Regions from separate parts of the Homo sapiens genome. Here region 2 is linked to region 1. The links come from fine-mapping of genetic effects on gene expression. Tissue or cell type: skeletal muscle. Region 1 holds a variant in brackets; the other region holds the start of a gene. All regions are shown on one strand. Distances are between the middles of the regions.

Evidence for each region. PIP is the estimated chance that this variant, and not a neighbour inherited with it, causes the effect.
Region 2: BOC starts here. The variant in region 1 is fine-mapped to the expression of BOC in skeletal muscle (FUSION, PIP 0.95).

What each region holds. Positions count from the first base shown.
Region 1 is chr3:113,254,241-113,262,346 of GRCh38, forward strand. The region is part of intron 4 of BOC (BOC cell adhesion associated, oncogene regulated); the gene reads left to right. It overlaps LOC124909409 (a long non-coding RNA gene), which reads right to left. Exons shown (of 2, transcript XR_007096006.1): 2 at 5,525-8,106. Among named protein-coding and RNA genes, the nearest start is that of BOC, 47 kb to the left of the region's middle. The variant A/C (reference allele first, on the strand shown) is at 4,461.
Region 2 is chr3:113,207,636-113,215,741 of GRCh38, forward strand. It overlaps BOC (BOC cell adhesion associated, oncogene regulated), which reads left to right and starts at 3,922. Exons shown (of 20, transcript NM_001378074.1): 1 at 3,922-4,381. LOC124909486 reads right to left here and starts at 7,995. Exons shown (of 2, transcript XM_047449436.1): 1 at 7,897-7,995; 2 at 1-4,645. The coding sequence starts at 7,995. The coding sequence ends at 3,920. RefSeq lists an enhancer at 4,283-4,934.

The DNA of each region.
Region 1 (8,106 bases):
GCTTGTCATTTAGACATGAATCAGAAGGCAAAATGTTTGGGCCTGACTAGAAAGAAGAAGTGCTGAAAGTTGAGAGAGCAGGCATGGGGGGCTGTGTCATGAAAAAGAGGGAGTTGGTGGAGTGGAACTGCAAAGCTTGGAGGAGGCAGCAACGAGGTGGCGGGAAGGTGGGTGGGGGCAAGTGAAAGGGGTGCTGTCTTTGGGTTAATGCCATTAGGGGATCTGGCCCAGACGCAGCAGTAGATTAAGTTTCTGAAAGCACATTCCTGAGCAGAATAGGGGCTGTGTTTTGCTGGTTGGCTGATGTATGAGGGAGGCCAAGTGGTAGACGGGATTACCGAAGGCACGGTCTGCATTTAGAGGAAAGACTGGGCAGCGGCGTGCCGGTGCACACGCATGCACACCCACACACACTCAGCATGGTAGGCTTCCTTTTCCTCTGGCCTCTTCTCCACGCTGTCCCATGTTCATCCTCGCACAAAGCAGTTGCTGTCTGGCCTACCTGGCAAGATGCCACCTCCTGCATCCACCCTTTAGAAGGGTCATGGGGCTATAGGTCATGGGGCTTAGGACCAGGCTTGAGGATTCAGGGGTGGAGGGGAGGCCTCTAGCAGAATAATTTTCTGGTCCAGTGTTGGAAGCTGGAGGGTCCACTTGTACTTCACCCTGACCAGGTGACATCATCTTTTGATTTTCGGTAAAATGGAGCCAGAGGTCAAATCAACTGAAGAGTCTCACCTGCACTCTCTCCCTCCCTCCACCCCAGGTTGTCCTGGCCATGTGGGTAATGGCTGCTGCATGCTCTGTGGAGGTGCCCATCTCGCTGTCCTCTGAAGAGTTTTTTATTTCCTATTTAACCTAAACTTTAAAAAAAAAAGAAAAACTTTCTTGCTGCCAATGCCCTGCTTCAGATCATCTTGTCTAATTCTTGGTTTTTGAAATGCTTTTAACTTTGAACTCCTTCCTTTCACTTCCCTTTCCCTTTTCACAAGCCTCACACCAGGCAGCCAACCGCTCTACACAGCTCAGCTGTTCCCAGTCTGCTCCTGAACCAACAGCAGACCCTGCCAGGGAGCACTCCACTCCTTCTTACTGGACCCTGAGTTCCACCTCAGGCCTGTTCTCAACACAGTATGGCAAGGAGTCACAACCGACTCATCAGAGCTGGCAGTGGAAAAGCTGTTCTCAATCCCTTACCTCTAACAGTCAACCATTAATAATTGTTTATTTTTAACTTTTAAGATTTTTTGATAATTTTATTCTCCCAATTCTCCCATCATCCCTAGGTCCCACTGGTAGCTGGAAATAAAACAGGTGGTAACCAGGTAGCTACCTATAATTCTAAACTTGGGAATTTTAGTCCTCAAGTTAATGTGAAGTCTTAAGCTGCAGCCGGTATAATTGAGAACAGATCGGTCACCGCTCCTTAAGGCCTCCTAGCGCCAAGGCCAGGCATATACTCCTGAATGGTCCTGTCTCTGGCATCAGAGATCAGCAGGCAAGGTGGCTGACAAGAAAGGAAGGAGTCCCCCTCGCCACTCAACCTCATGAATCTCTGACTTTGAGAAAATGTCCAAAGTGACCAGGGGCCCTTTGTTACCATAATTTAATTTAACCCATGAATAAAATGAAGGGCCAAACTGGTATAATGGAAAAAACAAGAAGCTAAAAAAAATTTTTAAATTCTGGGTTTAAGCCTTAGCTCTGCCATTTAAGTGTTCCATGACTTTGAGCAAATCACTTGGTCTTTAGACTGACTGCCACAGCTGTGAAATGAACACAGTAATTACATCACCAGTCTCATGGGTTTTTTGAGGATAAATGGGAGAATGTATAATATTAGTATTTGAGAGCATTTTAGAAATCCCAGGCTTTATTTGTTCGCCCATGTGGTTGTCAAACATTTCTGGAGTGTCTCCTTTCTGGAGGCTCTAAAGCCCGTGTCCAGCCCTGTACTGCCCAGTTCCATTCTGGGAGTGACCCTTAGGAAGACAGTCCAGAGGGTGGCAGAGCTTCCAGTCATAACCAGAACCAATAGAGGGCTGGCTTCTTATAAAGAGAGAACTAACCCATTCCTGTGACTTTCTTAGTTCCTTATATACATGTGCTCTCTAACTCAGATTCCCACCCCAGCCGCCTTCAGGAGCAGCCACGGTGTCATGGTGCATTGTCAGTGTAGCCCGCAGAGCTGCTCACTGATGCTCCTGTGGGTTCACTGCTGCCCACTCAACTGCTGCCGTATACAGACAGCTGTTGTTTTGCACTGACAGGCTGGGCTGACCCTGGCCTTCAGCATGGTGAATCTTACAAACAGAAGCTATGTCTCTTTGCTCAGCTCCCCTAACCGCTAATTCCCATCACACACTTCACTAAGGTCACCTAGGTTCTGACTGTGAACTAGAATAGTCCATAGTCCATTAAGGACCATTGTAGCGATTTCTTTCTTAAAATATTTCTAGCTTCCTTTATCTCTGTATTAGGGTTCTCCAGAGAAGCAGAACCAATAATACATATATGTGTGTGTGTGTGTATATATATATGTATAATATATTTAATTTTGTATATGTATAATTATATATTATACAAAGATTTATTTTAAAGAGTTAGCTCATGCAGGCTGTAGATTCAGGTAAGAATTGATATTGCAGTCTTAGGGTAAAAGCAGGAAACTCAGGCATATTTTCTGTGTTGTGTTCTTCTCTGGAAAACATGTCTTTGCTATTAATACCCTCAATGATCAAATGAGGCCTATCCCCACTAGGGAGGGTAATTATTTTCTCAAAGTAAAAGATTGTCTAGCAAAGTTGACACATGAAATTAACCATCACAGTCCCCTACTGTCCACCTGAAATACACCACCTGCCTGGAGTTCTTTTGGAATATGTCTCTTTGGAGACAATGTGAAGAAATTAGATTCTCCCTAAGTCCAGCTCCCAGAATCATTAATGGCACCTTTAGACGGAGATGTTTCCACGCTGCCAGGACAATGGTTATTCCTTAACCTTTATGGAGCCATGAGCTCCATTCAAACCTCTGGATGCTTTGGATTTCAACCTTGGGTGGAGCTGACCATTGGAAGATGCAGACACAGAGACCCTGTTGCCCCAGCCCCTACCAGAGATGCATTCACTGGTTGCAGAAACAGCTTCATGAAGTCCTCTCACCTTGGCAGAGGCATATTGTTTGGATTCTCTTTGGCCACAGGTGTCTCAGAGCAAAATTGTGGTTTAATTTGGGCTATCTTATTAAGACTATCCTTTCCTAATTTTCCCCTAGTCTTGATTTTTAAATATATATATAAAACCTATGTCTTGATTTTTTCTCAAGATTTTTTTTTCTCAACTCCTCTGTGAAGTGTAGGGGTGGAGAGGATGAGAGAAGAAACAAGCAAGCAAGAACTCAATTAATAAAATAATTTATCTTTCATTTCCAACAGTCATTATAATTTTCTTCCCAGAATATATTTTCTTACTACAATTAACAATCTACCTCTTTAATTTAATTTTGTCCTCAATACCTTACAACTTAATGCATTCTATTTCTAAAGGCTTCTATTAAATAAGGCAAGACCAAAATTCATGAGTCCCACTTGAAAAACAGCAAAGCACTCATTCTCCAGTGCTGACTCCTATATTTGGATGTTTTGGAGGTTGGTGCCCTAAGAATTGGGAACATTTAGAATTTCTAACAGAGCACAGTAAGATCTGGTCCTGGCCATTGAACATCTCTCAGTCTAATGGAGAAGGTGGACTTTGTTAACACATTAGTCATAAAGCAAGCCAGCCCCATGAGTTGCCCGCCAGAAATGTGAACAGATTTTAATGGGAGCTCGGAGGCTAGCAAGGATTCATTTCCATTTCAGGGGATTGCGGAAGACTCAGCAGTTGAGCCTTGAAGAATGTGTACAAGACAACCTTGATTTTTAATTTCTGAGTCCTCACATACCTTTCTCAGACCTTTAAAAACCAAATTCAGCTCTTAACATTGTGTATTCAGACCTAGGCCCAGTTCAGTTTCTCGGATGGCACCGATACTGCCATAGAAAGTTTTATTTCCATAGTGAGATATTTCCATGGTGAGCTCAATCGAATTCTTAATCTAGCCACCAGGTGATTGTCTCTCTCTCTCCATCCTGTTCCCCGCTCACCCCATTTCTTAACTGTTTCTCATCTCTTTTCTCTTTGGGTATGAACATTTTCTGATTAAGAAAGAAACTTAGAGTGTTTTTTCCAGTACTCCCCACTTCCGCCCCCGTCTGGTTCAGTTAGCCAGTGACTCCCTGACAAAACAGGAGGAGCCATTCGCTCCAAATTGGAAAAACATTTATGTGTTGGCTTGGGCATCAGGGAATCCTGTACAAGCTTTTTGCTTTGGGATGAAGGGATGGCAGTGAGAAGGGTTGTAGGGAAAGAAAACACAGGTGGCTTCCTAAGCTGCCCCAGGAGGGGAAGGAGATTTGC[A/C]GCTGGGGCAGAGTGTGAGCCTGCTTTGGCTGGGAGAGACAGAGACAGCTCCACACAGGGGAATGGAGTTGGAAAAGGAGAGCCAGCTTGAAATTTAGTTGTTCCATACCATAAGTTATGTGTATTTTACTTTGACACTTGGGCAAGAAAATTATTGAAAGATGGCTGAGATCTAAAAGGTGCCTGAGCAACTTGAGCATCTTAATAGGAAATGAATAAGGAATACCTTATAGCTTTAGGACAAAGTTACATCAACGCTTTCTGTTTTCTACTGGATGCAGGCAGAAATTAATAGCTCACTAGAATTATCCCTGATATTCTGGTGAAATCTTCAAATGGCATTGGCTACACTAGTCCTATTAGCCCTGGTGCAAGTACCCAGACAGATCCGTGGTGTAAGTTCTGCTCAGAGCATCTTGGCAGCAAATGTCTGCCCCAAACAGCCAGGAGTCCCATTCTATATTTATCAGAGGTCACTATTTACCAAACAGACCTCAGGTTCATAGTGCATCTTCTACCAAGGACACCCTTAAGGACTCTTAACCCACTCCACCCTTGTCCTCAATTCATTCTTTGCACTCACAGCCAAATGCTTAAATACAATACTGGGTTCATTTTCTAAGCTAAGAGAAAAGGGAAGGGCTGTGTAGTATGTTGATTCAGTGAGCCAAAACACAGTTTGAGGAGCCTTTTGCACCAGAAGCCAAGGGAAAGATTGATTTGCCGGCTTGAAATCACTGGACTCCTTTAAGGAGCATGGTGCAAGATGCTTTCTTTAGAACAAAAAAGAAAACCAAGAGAGCAAATGAGTCCTTGGTTCCCTCATTTTTTAAAAACAGCTTCACACCTCAGCATCCCCTGTTTCTCGTGTGTGTGTGGAAAAGTTGAGCAATTTCTACTTTGACTTTGTTTTTAGACTTTCAGCCATTTTTGGAGTCTGGTAATAATCTTGAGCTCTATAGAACAGTGAGTCTGTCCTGCAAATAGACGTAGTGTTCACATCCAAATTAAAGGATGATCACTTCATAATGAGAAAAAATGTAAACAAAAGGAAAAAAACTTGCTGAAGTAGAAACAGCATTTATTTTCCTATAGGGAGAATTGTGATTAATAGTGAGGTGCTTACAGCCTTTCCCTCAGGCCCACTTTCCATCGCGCACTTTCTCCTAGCTTTCAGAATGGTGGTCCCTCAGCTGGCAGCATCTTCCTCTCCATCTCCGTCCTCAGAAAGTTCCCACCTCTGTTGGGTTACTAATTCCTTCTCAGTTTTCAAGACTCAGGTATCTTCTCTAGGAATGTTTCTTGACCCCTTCAACTTCCAAGTCTAGAGTAGGTTCTCTTCCCGGCTTCCTTAGTACCTTGGGTTTGCTTCCACAGCCCTTTCTTGCCTCTCTATCTGGAGGGTAGGAACTGTTATTATGCATCTGTGTCCACAGTGCTGTCCACGGGGCCTGGCACACCATAGGCCTTCTGTGAATGTCATGAAAGAGGAAGACTCCCAGATAAAACATGTTTGAGGTCTAGAAGATGAAAAAGGGCATACACAGGGTAAATTAACAATTTCTGAATTTCCTTTTCAAATTCTGATATATTTAAAGTTTTCAAGAAGTATATAAGAAAGGATAAAGCAGGGACTCAGGATACAAAGAGGTTGAAGATACAAATGGATTCAAGAAAGACTTAGAAAAATTGATGAATGTCAGAAGCATAAAACAACATTGGAAAGAAACTGAGATGTTTGGAGGAAATTCTGGAACCTCAGGGAGATGCCAGTGAATTTGGCTCCATGACCTAACACAGGGGTCCCCAACCCCCAGGCAGCAGACCAGTACCGTTCCATGGTGGTGCATGGCCTGTTAGGAACAGGGTCACACAGCAGGAGGTGAGCGGTGGACCAGCAAGCATTACCATCTGAACACCACCTCCTGTCAGATCAGCAGTGGCATTAGATTCTATTAGAATAGAATAGAACAGAACAGAACAGAACAGAACAGAACAGAACAGAACAGAACAGAACAGAAAGAACAGAACAGAACAGAACAGAACAGAACAGGTTTTCACCATTCAATAGAATAGGGTTCACCATTAGAGGGTGAACCCTACTGTGAACTGTGCATGCGAGGGATTTAGGAGGTTGTGCGCCCCTTATGAGAATCTAACTAATGTCTATTGATTTGAGGTGGAACAGTTTTATCCCAAAACCATCCCCCCCAGTCTCCCCACCCATGGTCCATGGAAAAATTGTCTTCCATGAAACCCGTCCCTGATGCCAAAAAGGTTGGGGACCACTGTCCTCACATATACCTCAAGGGGCATTTTGGAGTGGGTGGATGGGATTGGTGCCACCGAGGCTGATGGGAGTATGCAGTTTCCAGGTGTGTGGGAAGAAAAAGCAGGCCCCACTGCCCCGTCTCTCCCACCTGGAGTTCTGTTCATCACAGCCACACCAAAGTGCTCATCCCCATTCTTTCTCTCAGCTCCTCAGCCTCCGCTTTCTCTCCTCCCTCTCTTCTTGCACAGGCTGCCAGCCCTTCCAAAGCCTGTGCCAGGATCCAGCTCTGGCTCTGATGAGTCCAGACCACCAGGACTCACATTAATTTTCCCACTGCTAAGTTTATAGTTTGTATTTGGTTGATCAGAGAAATATGTGTGATGTGGGTTGCTGGCAAGTAAATCTTTTTTTCCTTCTGCTCTTTCTTCAGTATATTTTTTTTCTAACTATTTCATTCCTTCATCTAGTCCAAAAGAAACTCCCCAGTTCTGCTAACCAGCCCTACCTCAGAGCGGCCCTGAAGTCGGGTAGATGAGATGGTCTACAGACCAGACATCTGTGTTCATCTGGCTGCCAGACCCAGTGGAGACATGGCTCCATCCTTGACTTGTCTTTGAGGATTAATCGCATTTCTCGTTCTCTTATGTCTTTTTTAAAAATGAAGTATTTTTAATTGGTTCAAGCCAAGAAATTCCTGAAGCCTCAGGCCAATTCATTGCAAATCATTTAATGACATTGCAAAATAGGTTCTTTTTAGTCTCTCTCCTTCTTCCTCTCCCACTCCTCCCTTCTGGCCTGCTTTCCCCTCCTGCCCACCCCCAGATTTCTCTCTCCTGTCTTGACTTTGATTTTCAGCCCTCATCCCCCAGTCTCTTTCATCTCTTCCCCAATCCCAGCTTTCTTCCACTGCTCAAATCTGGGTGTAAATCCCACCTCAACTGAAAGGAAAAGAAAGAAACAAGATTTAACAACTAATGTGCTTGGCATCTACAAAGGTTTGTTTTTTTTTTTAATTCTTCTTCTTCCTCCCCATGGAAACTGTTTTCTTTAAATAAAAAAGAGCATGCCTTGCTTTCATCAGAAAGTGTGTTTGAGAAATTTCATGTCATGTTTCCATGGTTGTCAGGAGAGAGCTTGGGAGCCAAAATTATTTGTGCAATTGGACAGGCAGAAAAAAATCCCAAAGACAGCAAACATATTTATCCAGTCTCCCTGCCTGCAAAGGGAGGAGCAGTACTCACTCTGCCAACTGTGTTTCTAAGTGTCTCTGTAGATTACAGTGTTGACTTAGGCTGGAGTGCTGGTGGAGGTGGTGAGGACTACGCTGGAGAACACCACGCTTGTGAATTATTGTGTCCTGCCTTGTCTATGTGA
Region 2 (8,106 bases), 47 kb before region 1:
GTACCAGATAAATCAATGAAGAAGCTGGCTCCTGCCTGAATTACCAGATGCATTAAAAATTGTATAAAATATTGAATAAACTCACCCCAATTATGTTTCCCTTTAAATGTCTTTCAATTCTGATTCAATTAGAATCATATACTCAGTGTCGATAACGTGTTTATTTGTATTGATGAGAAACAAAAACAAGAAAGAAAAATGACTAGAAAAAACACTCCACTATGTTAATAACAATGTTATCCCTGGGTAGTAACTTTAAGTTGATTTTCTTCTTTTATGTGTTTTTCTACATTTTCTAAATTTTTGTCAGTGCACATATTTTATAATCAGGAAAGCAGATTTATATTAAAACAGAGGAAAACATCATCAAGTCCTTCTTTCTTGTCTACATCTTAATAATTTTCTCAGCATAATCCTCTCCAGATATCTTTCACAGTCAAAGAGATCCCTGTTTATATGATACAGGTAGAGTATCTACAGCACACTGAGAGGAAACCACGTCTTTTCATGTCATTCACTGAATTCCTTCCAGTTTATTCTGCACAGCCTAGCAACATAGTGACTTATATAGACCTACAATCCCTACTCACCTCCCCACTCCTTCCCCCGACCAAGCATTTAAATTAATGTGATGATCACTTCCATACCAAATGCTTCCTTCTTGGTGGAGGCCCATAACATTTCCAAGAAAGCAAGGTGCTAGAGGTAAATCACCATCAACAGAACGGACAGTAGCAAAAAGCACCTTACAAGATCCAGACTCCACCTAACTGTTTTGAAATGGCTAGAGATGCTGGAATGGGTTGGGGTGGGTTAAGATAGAGAAACTAATTGAAAGGGGAGGAGGGAATTAGGCAAGAAATACCCTCCAGGCAAAATGGAGTGGGGAGAAAATTCAGATACGTTGTTCTTACAGGACTAGTAGTAATAAACACAATCACATTAATACAAAGAGCAATAAAAACAATAAACATATCTGAGGTACCAACAGTGTGCTTGATGCCGCCAGCAGAATTAAGTCCTCTTTATTAAGCTGTGATCTGCATTCTGCCTAAACTATAAGAAAGGTGAGCAGCAGGCCGGGAGCAGTGGCTCATGCCTGTAACCCCAGCACTTTGGGAGGCTGAGGCGGGCTGATCACCTGAGGTCAGGAGTTCGAGACCAGCCTGTCCAACATGGTGAAACCCCGTCTCTACTTAAAAAAAAAAAATTAGCCTGGCGTGGTGGCAGGCACCTGTAATCCCAGCTACACGGGAGGCTGAGGCAGGGAGAATCGCTTGAATCGGGGAGGTGGAGGTTGCAGTGAGCTGAGATCATGCCACCGCACTCCAGCCTGGGTGAGAGAGCCAGACTCCATCTTAAAAAAAAAAGGAAAGAAAGAAAGGTGAGCAGCCTGCATGCATGAAGGAACAAGGCAGTGTGTCATTCTCCTGACTAAATGGTGCTGGTAGGGACTGTTACATTCTTTGTGTTCTGTTGTGTTCTGATGCTTAACTCAGAGCCTAGGGCTGTGTGGACCCAAAGACCAGAGTAAGAGAATGGAGAGTCCTAGGAGAAAGATGACAGAAGGGGTAGAAGATATCTTTGAGATGTCAAGCAACGAATAGTATATACAGGAATATAAAAGAATGAATCTGAGACCTTCATGCATCACGTTCTCATTGAGCGGTACTTGGAATCATCTTTGAAAAACAGAAGGCTGGATACGCTGCTTGGGTCCCTGGGGAGAAGGAGTGTTATCACTGCAGAGGAAGCTGGTTGACCCATTCCCTTGGGGGAATTAAAAGTTCTGTACCCAGGGTGGACCCCAGGCCTTGTAGTCCAGAATTGTGCCTTGGAAGGAGGACAAAAGAAAGTGGAAGCTAATATAGTCAATGACTGGAAAGAAAAATAGGTCTTTGAGAATGTTGGGGGAGATTGTTAGAGATTAAAAGGGAAGGAAAATTAGGATGATTAAGTAGGAAAAGGAAATGTAGGTGGATAATGCACAGAGAGAGTTCAGAGTCCTTTTCACCTTCTTGCTGAAAATGCATCATCCTCCAGATCCATTTTGCCAGAGGAACATGCCTAAGAATCCAGGCACAGAGCTGAAAGTACTCGATAAATCAAAAAGGAAATTGGCTTCTGCCTGAATGACTAAATACCGGAGAAAAAATAGTGCAAAATATGGAATAAAATACATTTATGTTTCCTTTGTAAAGGTCTTTTGGTTCAGATTCAATTAGAGTCCTATACTCAGTGTAAAGTATGTATGTTTACTGACAAGAAACAAGTTAATAAAAAACAAAACAGGGCCGGGTGAGGTGGCTCACGCCTGTAATTTTAGCACTTTGGGAGGCCAAGGTGGGCAGATCACTTGAGGCTAGGTGTTCAAGACCAGCCTGGACAACATGGTGAAACTCCGTCTCTACTAAAAATACAAAAATTAGCCGCGCATGGTGGCAGGTGCTTGTAATCCCAGCTGCTTGGGAGGCTGACACTGGAGAATCTCTCGAATTCAGGAGGCAGACTTTGCAGTGAGCCGAGATTGCACCACTACACTCTAGCCTGGGCGACAGAGTGAGACTCTGTCAAAAAACAAACAAACAAACAAACACACACACACACACACACACACACACACACACACACACACACACACACAAAACCCCCAGAGGCCCAGAAAAGTTAAGTGACTTTCCAAAGTCACAGTGGCTTCCTGACTCCCAGTGCAGCTGTCCAGCCACACAGGGAAGGCAGCACCCCCATTCACCCTACTACTAGCCTGGCTGTCTTATTTCCAGGACAGCTTCCTCACCAGCTTGGCACAAACTCCCAGTTCACTTTAAACAAATGGCTTAGCCCTGCTGGGACTTGGTTTTCTCAGCTGCAATGAAGATACGGAATGGATGACCGCTCACAACCTGTGCTTCATTCCTAAAAAATAAGAAGGGAATCCAATTTGCCACCAACTCAACATTTGCCTTCTCACTGCCCTGGAAAGGTAGTTTTTAAAACGTGGCCCCTGACCTGCAGCATCAGCATCACCTGGGAACCTATTTGAAATGCAAATTCCCAGGTCCACCTACTGAATCAGAAACTCTGGAGGTGGGGCCCAGCAAAGGGATTTAGCAAGCCTTCCAGGGAGTCCTGCTGCAGATCAAGTTTGAGAACCACAGCTCTGAAAGTTTTCTGACCAACACACACGCGCGCGTGCGCGTACACATACACACGCATAGGTAACTAACTTTTCCGTGGCCACTAGCACCCCCAACCCATGCCCCCAACCCCAGCCCCAGCTCTCCCTCCCCATTCCTCCCTGGCTCCATCCTGGGATGATGAATGGAGGTCAGGGCGCTGTCAATGGACGACGCGGCAAACCCTCCCCAACCGACCGAGGGGGTCGGGGGAGGCTGCGTTAAGGCTTCCCTGAGATTGGTTTCCTTATCATTTTCTCCACCGCCGCTGTCCCATTTTCTGATGAGTTTGCTTTTAATGATTTATCCAACAGTTTGTCTTGCAGAAGAAGAAGACCATTGAGAGGTGGGTGTCAGGAAAGTCTTGGAAGAGACTAGGCGAAAGGAGGGAAGGATTGTACATGGAAGAGCAAGGGTGCGAGGTGAAGCTAAAGAGAAAGTGAAGGCTTCAGGGGAGCCCCCTGGGTTCGGGGAAAAGGGAGAAGATGGTGCTTTTGGTATGGGAAAGCAAAAGAAGTTGGAGGAGAGCGCGGGTCTGAGGCACAGCAAAAAGTGGGTGTTAACGGGAAAACTGCCCTAGAGTTTGGGGGACTTTTTCCAGCTTCCTTTCCAAGACTTTTTCTTTGCTCCATTTTGCTCCTCCCCCTCCTCCCAGCCTCCTCCACTCCCTCCTCCTCCTCCTCCTCGCACGGTAATGGGAGGCTCCTAGGCAGGAGAAGCAAAAGAAGGAATTGTTTGCGAGTTCAGTCATCCAAAAAGCTTCTTCCATATGGAGGGACCGGGTGCGCTGGGCGCGGCGTCCCCTGCGTTGTCCTCCTGCTGCCGCCCCCGCGGCCGCCGCTTTCTGCCGCGGGGACCCTGAGCCCCGGCCCGCCGGTGTCAGCCGCCGCGCGCGCGCACAGACACACACACAGAGACACACAAACACACACAGAAAAGACACACACGCGCACACACGGCGCGCACACCCTCACGCCCGCCACAGCCACAACACGCCCGCACGCGCCCTCCCTCTCCGGCCCGCAACTTCTCGGTCCTCGGCTCCTTTGTTGCTCCAGCCGCGGCCGCTCGCCCGTGTTGTGTGTCCCCGGTGTCACCGAGCGTGTTGTGTGTCCGTGCGGCGCGGCGCTGTGTGGCTCCCTCGCGCCCACCACGCTGGCCCCCGGGCCCCGGCTCGCCCTTCCCAGGCGCCGGCTGCAGCAGAGGTGAGTCACGTCGCTGAAGTTTGTTTTCTTTTCATAAAAAGTTGTGTTTACTGTTGGTTCGGGGAGAGGAGGGGGCGGGAGGCGGCCGCAGGCCGAGGCAGCGCCAGCGAGTGGCTGCCGGGGGACGTGCCGGCGGCGGGAGCCGGGTCCCAGCGCTCGGCCGGGCGCCCGGGGCTGGGAGCTGCGGCCGAGGCTGGGCGCGCCGGGCGCCGGGCGAAGAAGTTGGGGCGAGGCGGGCAGCGGGGGTCCCGGGGGCTGCAGCCGCTACGGGGCCCAGGGGCGCCGCATCTCGTTCCCTGCCGCAGCGGTCTGGCCGGGCGATGGTGGTTTCGCCTCAGCGGTTCCCAGAAGCTTCTCGGGTGGAAGAAGGATCCAGCCAGCCTCCCAAACTTCCACCGAAGGTTGACACCAGCGCCCCGGCCCCATGCTCCAGGCCGTGGGGGGAACCCGAGGCGTGGCGGCAAATGCGTAGAGTCACTCAACACGCACTCGGCCTCTTTGGAGGGTGAGGGTTTCTCATAGTTGGCGTCTTCTAAAGGAAAAACACTAAAATGAGGAACTCAGCGGACCGGGAGCGACGCAGCTTGAGGGAAGCATCCCTAGCTGTTGGCGCAGAGGGGCGAGGCTGAAGCCGAGTGGCCCGAGGTGTCTGAGGGGCTGGGGCAAAGGTGAAAGAGGTGTGTGTGTGTGTGAGAGAGAGAGTTCGTGTGTGCGTGTACGTGTGTGCGCGCGCGTGTGTGCGTGTTCGCGCCAGCAGCGTCCTCCTGGGGTTTTTGTTGATGTAACTGTGAGAAGGTGTGGGAAATGAATCTCTGGAACCAGTGGGACGGGGCTGTGGGGAGGGCAGGGAACCCAGGAAGAATTTTCATGGGGGTGTTGAAGGGCCTGCTTGACTTTCAGGATGTTCAGTATTAATTTGCTTTTCCAGGTGATGGGAGAATGCTGAGGGATGAGAGAGGCAGGCAGACCTGAAGGAGTTAATGGAGCCTCGGGGATTTGTTTGGCAGAGTTTTGTTTTGGGGATGGGGGTGGCAGTGCCAGAGTTGCTTGGAACAGAGTTGTGCTCCTCCAGAGATGTGGCAGTAGAGCTAAGAATACCGAAACCACACACCAGCAATCCCAAACTGGCACTTTTTGGGTGTGGTGGGGTGTTCTGCTGCTCCCCTCATCCCTTCTCTGCAAGTTCAAATGGGTTCGCCTAAGTTTTTGACCCAGAGTTACCTCTTTGAGTGGACTGAGTGAAGATTATATTTTGATTTCAGGCCCTTGTGCCACCTGCAGATGCACTGTGCCCAGCACACATTTGTCACCTAGTTCTTTGTTGTCCAGAACTCGGTACACATTGACCATTGGATGAATGTCATTTTAAAACTTCAGTGTGCAGACATTTCTGATTTATTCCACGACTGGGTCTTAAACAGGCAGCCCAGCTCTGTGATGGTTTTTTTCATCCCTTTGGTTACAGCCAATAAATCAATCTTCGTTTTCTTAAGGGCAGCATGGAAAATATTAAACCACAGTCTTGGGCTGCTTGTGGGGGCTAGGATGCCCATACATCTGGGTGACCTGTTTTCTGAACTTAAAGTAAATCTGAGGCAAGAGGTTAGCCATTTTGAGGTGTGTAACAGGTTTCCCAGAAACATTTCTGAGGTCTTATAATTGGTACTTTTTAATGGTCTCATAATTGAGACCCAGAAGCTTCTCGTGGTGATCTGAAAGCACCTTGGGGTCAGTGGGACAGAGGCCGGGCAGAAACAGCAGTAGAGTTATTATTTTCCTGCTATGAGTTTTTCAAATGAGTTTATGCAAAGAGGTAAAATGAAAGAAAGAAGAGTTGCCTCATTGGGCCACTTTGCTGACACTGTCCTCCCCTGTATAGATTTGTCACTCAGAATTTGGGCCTTGAGGAGGCTGGAGGGTGTCTACACATTTATGAAGCCTGAGGATTGAGACCTCAGACACTGTCTCTTTTATCCTCTATCGAGATACTTCAGAAATGCTTCACTGCAAGAGACATTCGCTAGGGAGCAGTTGTCCCCCACGCCATAGGCCACTGGCTTTACTTGGGAAAAGAGGTTGCTAGAAGCCAGAATGGTTGATTCTTTGACTACAACTGGAGAGGGAGGGTGTGGGGAAAAAATAGAGAGGACTCTGCTTAGCTGTTAATTGGTGAGCCAACTCTTGGTAAGCTGTGTGATTTATGTTCCTTTCCACCCTCCAAATGGGTCCAGAGATTTTCCCTTTTTTTGAAGTGCTTTTTCAAGTGTTTGGGATCCCGGCTCTCTTCAACAACATGGTTTCCATGCCCTAAGAATGAATAAGAGATTTTACCCATGAAATAATTCAGTTGACTTTCACATGGACCCCCCACGGTTTGAAAAAGGAGAGCAAGAAGTGAGCCTGATGTGTCATAGTGTTCCGTGTCCCCTAGGGGGTCTGGGTTCAAATTTCGGCAAAGCCACTGATGTGGGTAATGAATTAGGGTTTATCTCTGTGTCTTTCAAACTACAACAGAAAACTCAGGTGCACCAAATAATTGCTATCCAATACCTTGTGGCCTCTGAATAAGAAAATATTAACTTGGCACCAAAAGATATTATATATTTGGAAGTTGCTTTCTTTCCTCCAAACTCTAAGCCCTCTTGCTGTCTGGGAAAATATGGGACAGGAGAAAAGAATCGAAATTTGAGAGGGAGAGGAAAGAAAATAATATGTTCCATTTAGAAAAATCTATTTACTCTAACATATGTAACTTCTTGTCATCTCCATACTTCAATTCAGCAAACATTTTTAGTGCATCAGGCACCAGGCTGAAAGCTTCCTTGTCCCAGGAAAGTAAGCTTTATTAGTCAAATGATGGTTCCTCCTCAGTTTTTATTTATTGTACAAGCATCTACTTGTAATTAAGAAAATGTTTTTTAAATTATCCACAATCCTATGGACTTGTGTTGCTCATCATGTGCATGCATACTTTTGACATAGTTGTGATAAGAGTATGAACTTTTGTCATCAGACAGCCCTGAAGTGTCTCTACATTTTTGACTAAAGACTCAGAGAACAGATGTAGCCAACTACTTTGCTGTTGGTTGGAAAGACCCAAATCCTAAGTGTGCTCCCACATGGAGCCTTAACATGTAACATTTTCATAATTTATGAGGTTGACTCAAATATTTGGGGTTAGGGGGTGGGATGGGAGAGGGTGTTTGTTTTTAATCTATAAACCCGTGTTTATGAAAAGCTTGCCTAAAGAAGGTTTTGCTTCTTTGGAGCCCTCAGGGTTGGTAACGGATAGAGAAGAGGAGGTGGAATGCAGGAAGGAAGGTTTAGAGGATCCATCTCAAATGGCACTGCCTTTAGGAGGGTTAGGAAACTGGGGTTGGAATCTAAGCTCTGCCTGTGAACTCCATTCACACTGACTCAAACCACTGAACTAATCTATTCCTACATCTCTACTGCCACCCAGTTAGACACCTTCCCCAAGTTTGCCTGCTCTTTCCTGCCCTTCCTTTTATTACTCCACCATCTTTTTCATTCCTGCCACCACCAGACTTGTTGATGCCCTTGACAATTGTTGCTGGCACGTGGCTGGGCCCCCAGTGCCAACCTGTGACCATCCCACCCATTCTCCATGAGTCCTATAATCAAGTCACCACCCAGCTTTAAAACAACCTAGGTTTAAAACCCTAATTTCTTAAAGCTCTGCTGTGTAGCTCTGTCCTACCTCA